Linked DNA regions of Homo sapiens. The gene in region 2 interacts genetically with the main gene of each other region. Each region holds a gene or a part of one and is shown on either strand. Other genes may lie near its edges. The genes, in order: CEP295, LUC7L3 and TRNAU1AP.

Region 1 (3,726 bases), on a different chromosome or scaffold from region 2:
TCCAAACTACTTCGGAAGTTGAGGCAGGAGGATCCCTTGATCCTAGGAGTTTGAGTTCAGCCTGGGTAGCATAGTGGGAACTTCATCTCTAATTTTAGAAGAAAAAAGTTTTTTCCCAAAAAGGAATTTAAATGTTATTTATACAACACTGATTTCACTTACCCAGACTGGTATAGAGCTCTGTAATGAAAATGATCCAGAACTTGCAAAAAGCTCTGATTCTCCTAGTTGAGATAGTTTTTTGGTGATTTTTGGAATGTCTGTTTCAGCTGAATTCTCAAAATATTTTTCATTTTGAGTAGTTAAGGAATATGGTGCCTGAATTGAAGTTCCCATCTCCACTGTTCTTACACATAATCGAGAGTCAGTTTCCTCTACCTGTGGATTTATGTCTAAAACCCTACAGGTTTCATTTTTATTATCTTCAATGAGTCCTTGACTTTGTAACATTGTAACAACCCCTCTTTTTGATAGTTCTTCAAAGCCCATACTTTCCTTTCTGCTTTCTAGTTGGTGTTTTGTTGAGCACTCACTAGAGTTAGAACCACATGGAGTGCTATGCTGTACATTTAACTGATCAAATACATTAGCTTCATCAGATGAACTGTAGACTGAACTTAAGTTTCCTATAGAAAGCTGGAAATGAACAATTTTTTTCTTGTTTTGTAATATTTCAGTATGTTCTTCAGAGGGATAGTTCTGATTTTTCATGCCTTGGGAAGAATCTCTTGCTTCAATGCTAAAAATACTTGGTAGATCAGCATGCTGGCTCTCCTCCTGTGAAGAATATTCTGGCTGAAGCTGTTCAAAACATTGTTCAGATCCTGCATTAAGAAATTCAAAAATCAGTTAATCATCGTTACATGTTGTAAAAGTTGGATACTGACAGTCTCTAATAGTTTATCATCCAATTGCAAGTAACCTACAATTTTAGGCATAAAAGTTGATGTGTATAAACATGAATACAAAGATAAGGATGGTCACAGTGATTTCTCAAACTACAGCTCACACCAAGTATTTTTTCTTTTTCTATTAATATTTAATAAGGACAATATGGCTATAAACTGAGGATGTTTTCCTCTATAAGAACTGAATATGACTTTAATAACAGAAAAGAGAATAAAGCATCCATGTGTATCTCAATTATCCATGTGTGTATATATAATTTGTACATCCTTGTGTATCTCATGTATGTTTGTGTGTATATATAATCATTTGTACCAAAGGCTCAAGAATACTTGTTTTCTATGTTGCCCAGGCTGGTCTTGAACTCCTGGGCTCCAGGGATCCTCCTGCCGCAGCTTCCCAAAGTGCTAGGATTACAGGCGTGAGCCACTATACTTGGCCTAAGAAGAATACTTAAACTGGCTGGGCATGGTGGCTCACACCTGTAATCCCAGCACTTTGGGAGGCCAAGACGAGTGGATCATCTGAGGTCGGGAGTTCTAGACCAGCCTGACCAACATAGTGAAACCCTGTCTATACTAAAAATAGAAAATTAGCTGGGTGTGGTGGCACATGCCTGTAATCCCAGCTACTTGGGAGGCTGAGTGAGGCAGGAGAATCACTTGAACCCAGCAGGCGGAGGTTGCAGTGAGCCAAGATTGCACCACTGCACTCCAGCCTGGGCAACAAGAGTGAAACTCAGTCTTCAAAAACAAAATAAAAACAAAAACAAAAACAAAAAAAACAAACAAAAAAATAATACTTAAACTGTTAACTATCACATAATGATTGAGGTAGGGAAATTGAGGAACAAGAGGCAACACTTTTCCTTTTATTTCATAATGTTCAGTATTGTTTAAAAAAATGCATGTATTACTTCTGTAATTTAAATATTTTTTAACACCCAGGATAGGGGTGAGAGCAGGGGTGAAGACAAACCAAGAGGTGCTAGGCTTAATTTCTAAGGAAATGGATGTAAAAAATCATGGAAAAATTAACTTTTTCTAACTTAGTCATACATACCCCCAATAATATTTTCTGTAGCAAAACTGTGAGCTCCAACATGAGCCAAGTTAGTGTCAGGTTGTTGATTCGGACTTGTGTTAAGAGAAGAATGCATGCTGGTCCTCCTCAGTGCTGTGAAATAAACTGTACTTTTGGATAATCCAGTAGCACAGTGGCTTTCAGATGAAGAATCTGATCTCTGGCAGGAAACAAAAGGGAAAGGCTGAAATACTGATTAGGTATTAACAATTGAAACAATAATCATTGTGTTCCTTTGGTATTACTCTTCCTTAATTATCACTTCACTATGACAGCAATGATTTGCTTTTTCAAATCCAGTTCTTTTCAATCAATATGAAAGAGACTTTAAAATGTCAGGCCATCAGGAAGTGGAAGCAAAAAGACTCAGGTTTAAATCTCAGCTCCTTTGACTGTGTAGGAGGATACTTTAAATTTTGCAAAATTGTATTTACTTTACTGTTTAAATATGTTCCACAACTAAAAGTTGTTATTAAGCCTTTTATGGCATCATACTCCCTAGGTGGAGACAGGTGGATGGGACAAACAAAATTCTAATGTAGCTGTTTTCCTTTTTTTTTTTTTGAGATGGGGTCTCACTATGTTGTCCAGGCTGGAGTGCAGTGGCACGATCTCGGCTCACTGCAACCTCTGCCTCCCAGGTTCAAGCGGTTCTCAGCCTCCCGAGTAGCTGGGACTACAGGCATGCCATCACACCCAACTAATTTTTGTGTTTTTTAGTAGAGATGGGATTTCACCATGTTGGCCAGGCTGATCTCAAACTCCTGGCCTCAAGCAATCCACCTGCCTCAGACTCCCAAAGTGCTGGGATTACAGGCATGAGCCACCGCACCCGGCCCAATGCAGCTGTTTTCAAAGTTGGTTCCACATTAGAATCACTTGGGGAGCTTAAAAAATAATAATAATAATTAGTACTATCTGAGCACTCCCAGAAACTCTGCTTTAATTGGTCTAGGGTGTAGTCTGGACAATAGGATTTATTTTTATTTTTTATTTAAGTTTTCCATGTGATTCTTTTTGTTTGTTTGTTTGTTTCTTTTTTTAAAGACAGGGTCTGGCTCTGTCACCCAGACTGGAGTGTAGTGGCACGATCTCAGCTCACTGCAGCCTCCACCTCCTGGGCTCAAGTGGTCCTCCCACCTCAGCCTCCCGAGTAGCTGGGACTACAGGTGCGCACCACGACACCTGGCTAATTTTTGTATTTTCAGTAGAGACAGGGTTTTGCCATGTTGGCCAGGCTGGTCTCGAACTCTTGGCCTCAAGTAATCTGCCCGCCTTGGGCTCTCAAAGTGCTGGGATTACAGGTGTGAGCCACTGTGCCCAGACTTCCATGTGATTCTAGGTAAGGGTTTAGAAGAACTTTTGTTCCAGTAGAAGAAATGGCTTAAAACTATTTTTAGATATTCACTGCAATGGGACATCTACTTTAATATACCTGGTAAAAGTCTCTGTTGTCTGGAGAAATCCCAGAGGATGATGATGATAAGTCAAAATCTGGATGTGGTTCTAAGGGTTTAAACAGCTGATGATGCAAATTAGGAAAAATGTGTTCCAATTCTGGAAAGTCAAGGTCAACTGTTAGAATTTTTGAGGGAAAAAAATCATAAATTTATTTTTAAGGTAAACACTAGAAAAGGAGTATTAAGAACATATTCATAAACGCTTATTTTCAGGTAACTCCAGTGTAACAAAAACTTCAGTTTTTCCCCCATGATCAGCAGATGCTTTAAAGTTAAG
Region 2 (3,934 bases):
AACATGGTGAAACCCCATCTCTATTAAAAATATAAAAATTAGCTGGGCGTGGTGGAGGGCGCCTGTAGTTCCAGCTACTGGGGAGGCTGAAGCAGGAGAATCGCTTGAACCCGGGAGGCGGAGGGTGCAATGAGCCAAAATCACGCCATTGCACTCCAGCCTGGGAGACAGAGCAAGACGCCGTCTCAAAAAAAAAAAAAAAAAAAAAAAAGAATGCATAAGAGGAGCCATAAAAAATGCAGATACTGGGACCCTTCCCCAAGACAGACAGAATCTGACTCTCTGGGAAGGGGAGTTGAAGGGGTTGAAGTACAGAAATATGCATTTAAAACAAATTCCACAGGTCAAATACAGCTATCTAGGGACTACCTTTAATACTAGGTAAAGTTAGCATTTTGACTGTTAAATACTTACAGATGCCACGGCAACTGTCTTTTAATTAATGGTTGCTTCCTTTCCTTATTTTGGTATTTATCTCTATTCCAAAAAAAAAAACAAGGGCCCCATCCAGCTGAAATGGCTTCTTCCATTTAATGCAAGTATGGCCAAGAAAAATTTCCAGATAGAACAGGAATGCAAAAATATGTTAAAATATTAGGCTATAGAAAAGGTGACTCCTTTTCAGCATATAATGGGTTTGCCCATCCCTGCAGGTTTAGCACTAACAGCCAACAGTACAAGAATATGCAGATGACCCGGAAACGATATCAACAGCTTCCCCAGCTTCATTATACAATAATTCCACCTATTTAGATGAGACCATGTGCTTTGTTTTTGCTCAACACTACCAACATTTTCCCTGCAGATATCAATCTGAAATGCCAGTAACTGACTTGAAATCCTTCAATCTAGAGTGAAGTGCAATCTGTCATTAAGGCATTAAATACTTTAGTAATAAACACTGAAAGTTAAAATTAGTGAAAAGTACTAAAACTGAAAGCAAAGCAGATTACGGCTGAGATGACATAAAACCTAAATTGCTATTCTGAGGGCCTCATCATTGAAGAGTCATAAACCCATCACATACAATGCAATGTGGCAACAAATTACCCCGGGAAAGAAAACAGTTTCTCTAAAACGTGTTCAAAGTCAAGGGTGCAGAGATACAAGGCTGTTCCAACTGATAAGGAGTGCAATGGAAAGCATTTTTCTCTTGAATTCAAAATATACAAATAACCTATTGAACATAAGCCAAATCGCCATAATGTTTTGGTTTTTTACCTTACTTAGGATTTTGAGCGTTATTCCTAACACATTTGCAAAGTTTAGACTGAAAGGTTACAGAGTCAGGTAGTTAAAAAAAAAAAAAGTTACTTCGCTATAACAAAGATGCCTACAAAAGAAAGATGGTCAAGGTAAGCAGTTCCTTAGTCTCCTATTGTGACAAATGGTCGGGGGGATGGGGAGCCTAAATGTTAAAAACAAAAAACCCACCTCTTAAAAACAATAAATTCTACTCTAAGAATGTTTCATACTACTTTGGAATCAGTTAGCACCCCAACACAACTTGAGCCAAACTTACTCTTTCTTAAAGTCCTAAAAGGAGTCATCTAGCACCAACTTGCTTTCCTACACTGCAAAAAAGAAATTTTACCTTAACCAAAGCCTACGTTTAAAAAGAGTAAGAAAACAGTTTTCTAAAGAAGCATGCATTACCTGAACTATTCCTTCCTATTTTGATTAGCAATTGTTTTAAAATTAGCATGTTAGATTATAACCTCAAAGTAAAATTAAATTCTGTATCTATTCTCCAGATAAGACCTAAAGTAAACATTACACTGCATGTTCAAAACTAGATCAAAACACTTGAAATGCTACAGTAGGTGCAGAGAACCAGTTTCATAGGATTGTGGAAAGCTAACAGAACTACAAAGATTAGTTTCCTCAGTTGCCAAGACTTTGGGTGAGCCTTTTTAAGTCTCACCAGTGAAACTGGGGTTATAATATTTACCTTTACTCCCCGGGCTAAGAGCATCAAATGAGTTTTATGTGGAAGAAAAAACCTTGACAGCTGCCTCTATAAGGGACTTCTTAGAATACTGTTAACGAACAATACTTGTAAATCATCACGGTAAACCCTAACAAGTAAACGACTTCTTTTACATTTCTATTTCCCCGTATAAGCGTCATGCTGTAATTACTTAAATAAAATACCGCCACGATTTTTACCATGAATCCTGGTCAGAAATTTTAGTCTAAATACGACGTTCAACCCAAACTATAGAAAAATGTGCCCTTCTCCCTATTTCATAATGAGGTGAAACCTCGGAGCCGCTAGATTTAATAAGACGCTGCTATCCTTCTTTCCCGCGTTTCCCCGCCTCATCAAGGTGCTTTTCAATTATGCCAAGGGCTCTCCCGGACCCCCTTGATACTAGAACAACAAAACCAAATCACCCCCATCCCCGGGTCCGGACAGCATCCTCCCTCCTGGCTCCATGGGCACCGGGTCAGACGCTCGACCCCGGGTGCGGCCCTGGCCACATCGCGCCGCGGCCAGGAGGGCCACAGCCCGCGCCCGCTCCCCTCCCCCACGGAGCCCGGGCTCAGGCCAAGGCCCGCGGGACTTACGCTCTCGTGGTCCCACCGCACGTTGCTGCGCTTCTCGTCCGGGGCTAGGTTTCGGTCCCGGCCCATTAACTCATCCAACAACTGCGCGGCCGAAATCATGGTGCTTCCTTCGGGCGGCTGTTCCCACCAGCCCAGGCACCCGCCAACGAAAACACGGGCGACACCGTCGCCAATCTCCTCGGCCCGCTCTCAGGCCGAAATCCCTCCTACACACAGGAGCCGACAAGACAAAATGGCCGCCGCGCGGACGCCTTCCCAGCATGCCGTGCGCCCGTGGGACACGCCCAGGCCCGGGCGGAGAGGGCGAGCTCGGCTTCCGCCGTCCGGGGGCGGGGCCCGCGGAGGCCGGGTAGGGACTCCGCCCCTGTCTAGAGGCCGCGGGGACGGGTAGCCTCTGCCCGCGCGCCTCCCCAAGCGCCCGGTTTTCCCGAGCTTCTTCACGGTGAGAAATTGGAGCCTAGGTCTTGAAGCCTGGACACCGCTTCAAAATGGAGAAAGTGTCTCCTTTAGTCCACGTGGTGCACATGGTGCCTCATGCAGCGGAGGAAACTGAAGATTACGGCTTCCGACTCCATTTTCCTAGTCGCTGTGCTCACGCCTCTTGCACCTGGCTTTGTCCTCCCGCCCTGAGTCTCCTGATTAACAGGATGGGAAATCGAGGCAAGAAGAGACAAGGCGGCTTCTAAAATACGGGGATTCAGTCCTACACCAAATGTCTCCCAGTGTGGAATTTTTTAAAAAGATATTGATCCAGTAGGCCAGGTGAGGTGGCTCACGCCTGTAATCACAGCACTTTGGGAGGCCGAAGCGGGCGGATCACCTGAGGTCGGGAGTTCGAGATCAGCCTGACCAACATGGAGAAACCCCGTCTCCACTAAAAATACAAAATTAGGTTGGCGTGGTGGCGCATGCCTGTAATCCCAACTACTCAGGGGGCTGAGGCTGGAGAATCGCTTGAACCCGGGAGGCGGAGGTCGCGGTGAGCCGAGATCGCGCCATTGCACTCCAGTCTGGACAACAAGAGCAAAACTCCATCTCAAAAAAAAAAAAAAAAAAAAAAAAAATATATATATATATATATATATATATACACACACACACACACACACACATACACACACACACACACACATATATATAGATAGGTAGATCCATTTATTCAACAAATGGTATGTGCCAGGCACTGTGCTTAAAGCTAAACTCAGAACCTTTCAGACAGTCCATGCTCCCGCAGACCTGTGCATTGGCGAGGGGAGATAATCGCTGAAGAAATAAAGTCACAAATATATCAACGTATGTTGGGATAATGCTTTAGCACAGTTAAGGGTATGGTCTCTAAAGCCAGATTGCCTGGGTTCGTAAT
Region 3 (3,726 bases), on a different chromosome or scaffold from region 2:
TTTTTAGTAGAGACAGGGTTTCACCGTGTTAGCCAGGATGGTCTCGATCTTCTGACCTCATGATCCACCCGCCTCGGCCTCCCAAAGTGCTGGGATTACAGGCATGAGCCACCACGCCTGGCCTGTATTTTTTTTAAAGTGGAGACCTGGGTTTCGCTATGTTGGCCAGACTGGTCTCGAACTCCTGACCTCAGGTGATCCATCTGCTTCAGCCTCCCAAAGTGCTGGGATTACAAGTGTCAGCCACCACGCCCGGCTCTTCTTTTTTTTTTTTTTTTTGAGATGGAGTCTCGCTGTGTCTCCCAGGCTGGAATGCACTGGCACGATCTTGGCTCACTGCAACCTCGGCCTCCCAGGTTGAAGCGATTCTTCTGCTTCAGCCTCCCGAGCAGCTGTGACTACAGGCACGCACCACCATGCCTGGTTAATTTTTGTATTTTTAGTAGAGACAGGGTTTCACCATGTTGGCCAGGCTAGTCTTGAACTCCTGACCTCAGGTGATCCACCCGCCTGTCTCCCGAAGCGCTGGGATTACAGGCGTGAGCCACCGCACCCAGCCTGTGCTGAGCATTTTCTCAGGGTGATCTAATCAAACTGTCTAATAATTCCATGAAAGTGGTATCCACATTTACTGAAGAGGTAACCAGTTCAGTGAGATTTAACAACTTGCCCAAAGTCATGGCAGAAGCATGATTCAAAGCCACACCTGTTGCACTCTCAAAGCCTGAGCATATAACTACCATACTGACCAAGAATGAGCCTTTCTTGAGGTTCTTCGATTTCCATTTTTTCTTTTTTTTTTTATTTGAGACAGAATCTTGCTCTGTTACCCAGGCTGGAGCACAGTTGTGTGATCTCAGCTCACTGCAACCTCTGCCTCCCGGATTCAAGCAATTCTGCCTCAGCCTCCCGAGTAGCTGGGACTACAGGCGCATGCCACCATGCCCGGCTAACTTTTGTATTTTTTTAGTAGAGATGGGGTTTTGCCATGTTAGCCAGGCTGGTTTCAAAGTCCTGACCTCAGGTGATCCATCCACCTCAGCTTCCCAAAGTGCTGGGATTACAGGTGTGAGCCACCATGCCGGGCCAACTTTTTTTTTTTTTTTATGGAGACAGAGTCTGGCTCTGTTGCCCAGGCTGGAGTGCAGTGGCACAATCTTGGCTCATTGCAACCTCCGCCTTCCAGGTTAAAGCAATTATCCTACCTCAGCCTCCCAAGTAGCTGGGACTACAGGTGCACACCACCACATCCGGCTAATTTTTTGTATTTTAATAGAGACGGCATTTCACCGTGTTGCCCGGGCTGGTCTCCAACTCCTAAGCTCACGCAATCCACCCACCTGGGCCTCTCAAAGTGTTAGGATTACAGGCATGAGCCACCACGCCCAGCCTGAAGTGGAACACTTCTAACTACACTGAAAGGCTCAGTAACAATAACAAGCAAAACAGCAAACACCTATAAAGCATTTCAAATGTGACTTACTTATATTATATCCTTTAATCCTTACATCAACCCTACAAGCAGCTATTATTAATCAGCTCCATTTTACAGATGGGGCTGTAAGGGTCACAGAGCTTCAATTCTACAATACTGGCATTCTCCCTCACCTGTATTGGAGCTGGGATTTGAACCAGGCAGTTTGGCTCCAGAGCTTGTGGTCTTAATCGCCATGCTGCAGGGCCTTTCTAAAACACCTCCACTCAGGAGAGAAAGGCTGAAACTAACACAGTTAAGCATCAGTAACAAGTAAGGCCTTACTTAGACACGCCTGTCTGGTCCAAAACCACCTTGCCTCCCCGACAGGAGGGGTAGACTTTGACGAAGAATTCATACAGCATGCCATCATCCACGTCCGGGGTCAGGTCCCCCACAAAGAGGGAATACTCAGGGCTGAGGAGAGAGAACAAGAAGATTCAGAGGCAAAGACCAAAACCTCTGCTCTGAAAAGCTCTTTTGCATATTCCAGGTAAACCTCTCCCAGGCCCCTTAAGGAAAACATTTGATGGGTCTACTTAACCAGCCCCTACTTTGTTTCATCAGAGCAGTCCTGGCAGAAGAGTTAGGGAAATAGTCCCTGCCCCAAATCCCTCACCCACTCCACAGAACTTGTCTGACTTCAAGTATTACATGAGTGCAGATGTGTGGATGGGGTCAGAAGTGCATCTAAGGCACTCAAAAGATAAAACTGCATAAAAACAGCATAATAATGCATTCTGCATTCCTTGTATATTTTAAACATAAATGTTAAAAGACAGAAAAAAAAGAACTAGATCTTATCTTCTAAGGACGTAAAGCCTAGCGAAAATTAAATCCCCAATCTTTTTTTCTGAGATGGAGTTTTGCTCGTTGCCCAGGCTGGAGTGCAGTGGTGTGATCTGGGGTCACTTCAACTTCTGTCTCCCAGGTTCAAGTGATTCTCACACCTTAGCCTGCCGACCAGCTGGGATAACAGGTGCGCACCACCACGCCCAGCTAATCTTTTGTATTTTTAGCAGAGACGGGGTTTCGCCAAGTTGGCCACGCTGGTCTCAAATTCCTGACCTCAAATGATCCACCTGCCTCAGCCTCCCAAAGTGCTGGGATTACAGGTGTGAGCTACCATACCCAACCTCTTAAACCACTGCGAGCTTGTGGGTGATACAAATCAGGCCAAAGTTTACCAACTCCTATTATAGGAGGTCAATTCTATTAAAAAAATAAACGAACACACAAACCTTTGTTATTTTTTTTTTCTTTTTGTTGAAATGGAGTATCACTCTGTCACCTAGGCTGGAGTGCAGTGGCGTGATCTCGGCTCACTGCAACCTCTGCCTTCTGGGTTTAAGCGATTCTCTTGCCTCAGCCGCCCAAGTGGCTGGGACTACAGGCACATGCCACTACATCCAGCTAATTTCCTTTTTTTTTTTTTTGAGACGGAGTCTCGCTCTGTCCCCTAAGCTGGAGTGAAGTGGCGCAATCTCAGCTCACTGCAACCTCTGCTTCTCAGGTTCAAGCGATTCTCTTGCCTCAGCCTCCTGAGTAGCTGGGATTACAGGTGCCCGCCACTACGCCCAACTAATTTTTTGTATTTTTAGTAGAGACGGGGTTTCACCATGTTGGCCAGGCTGATCTCGAACTCCCGACCGCAGGTGATCCACCCTCCTCGGCCTCCCAAAGTGCCGGGATTACAGGTGTAAGCCACCACGCCCAGCCAATTTTTGTATTTTTAGTAGAGACGGGGTTTCTCTATGTTGGTCAGGCTGGCCTCAAACTCCTGACCTTGTGATCTGCCCGTCTCAGCCTCCCAAAGTGCTGGGATTACAGGCGTGAGCCACCGCACCCGGCCTACCTTTGTTATTATCTTATTTCAGGTATGATTATACATATTATACATATTCCTTGTATAATAAGAATACACAAGGCCAGGCGCAGTGGCTCATGCCTGTAATCCCAGCACTTTGGGAGACCGAAGCAGGTGGATCACAAGGTCAAGAGTTCAAAACCAGCCTGACCAAGATGGTGAAACCCCATCTCTACTAAAAATATAAAAATTAGCTGGGCGCATTGGCAGGTGCCTGTAATCCCAGCTACTTGGGAGGCTGAGGCAGGAGAATTGCTTGGACCCAGGCGGCAAAGATTGCAGTGAGCCAAGATCATGCCACTGCACTCCAGCTTGGGCAACAGAGTGAGACTCCATCTCAAAAAAAAAAAAAAAAGAATACACAAAAGCACAGTCCAGGCACGAT

What was found.
Region 1: changes in LUC7L3 (region 2) and CEP295 together harm fitness more than expected from each alone (negative genetic interaction), as found in Homo sapiens cells (one large-scale study listed by BioGRID).
Region 3: changes in LUC7L3 (region 2) and TRNAU1AP together harm fitness more than expected from each alone (negative genetic interaction), as found in Homo sapiens cells (one large-scale study listed by BioGRID).

The regions. Positions count from the first base shown.
Region 1 is NC_000011.10:93,724,074-93,727,799, reverse strand, and holds part of CEP295 (centrosomal protein of 295 kDa), read right to left. Parts: intron 3,547-3,726; coding exon 3,425-3,546; intron 2,150-3,424; coding exon 1,969-2,149; intron 825-1,968; coding exon 163-824; intron 1-162. UniProt on the Homo sapiens protein: Centriole-enriched microtubule-binding protein involved in centriole biogenesis.
Region 2 is NC_000017.11:50,718,469-50,722,402, reverse strand, and holds the start of LUC7L3 (luc7-like protein 3), read right to left. Parts: upstream 2,801-3,934; 5' UTR 2,671-2,800; coding exon 2,572-2,670; intron 1-2,571. UniProt on the Homo sapiens protein: Binds cAMP regulatory element DNA sequence. May play a role in RNA splicing.
Region 3 is NC_000001.11:28,562,868-28,566,593, reverse strand, and holds part of TRNAU1AP (tRNA selenocysteine 1-associated protein 1), read right to left. Parts: intron 1,892-3,726; coding exon 1,760-1,891; intron 1-1,759. UniProt on the Homo sapiens protein: Involved in the early steps of selenocysteine biosynthesis and tRNA(Sec) charging to the later steps resulting in the cotranslational incorporation of selenocysteine into selenoproteins. Stabilizes the SECISBP2, EEFSEC and tRNA(Sec) complex.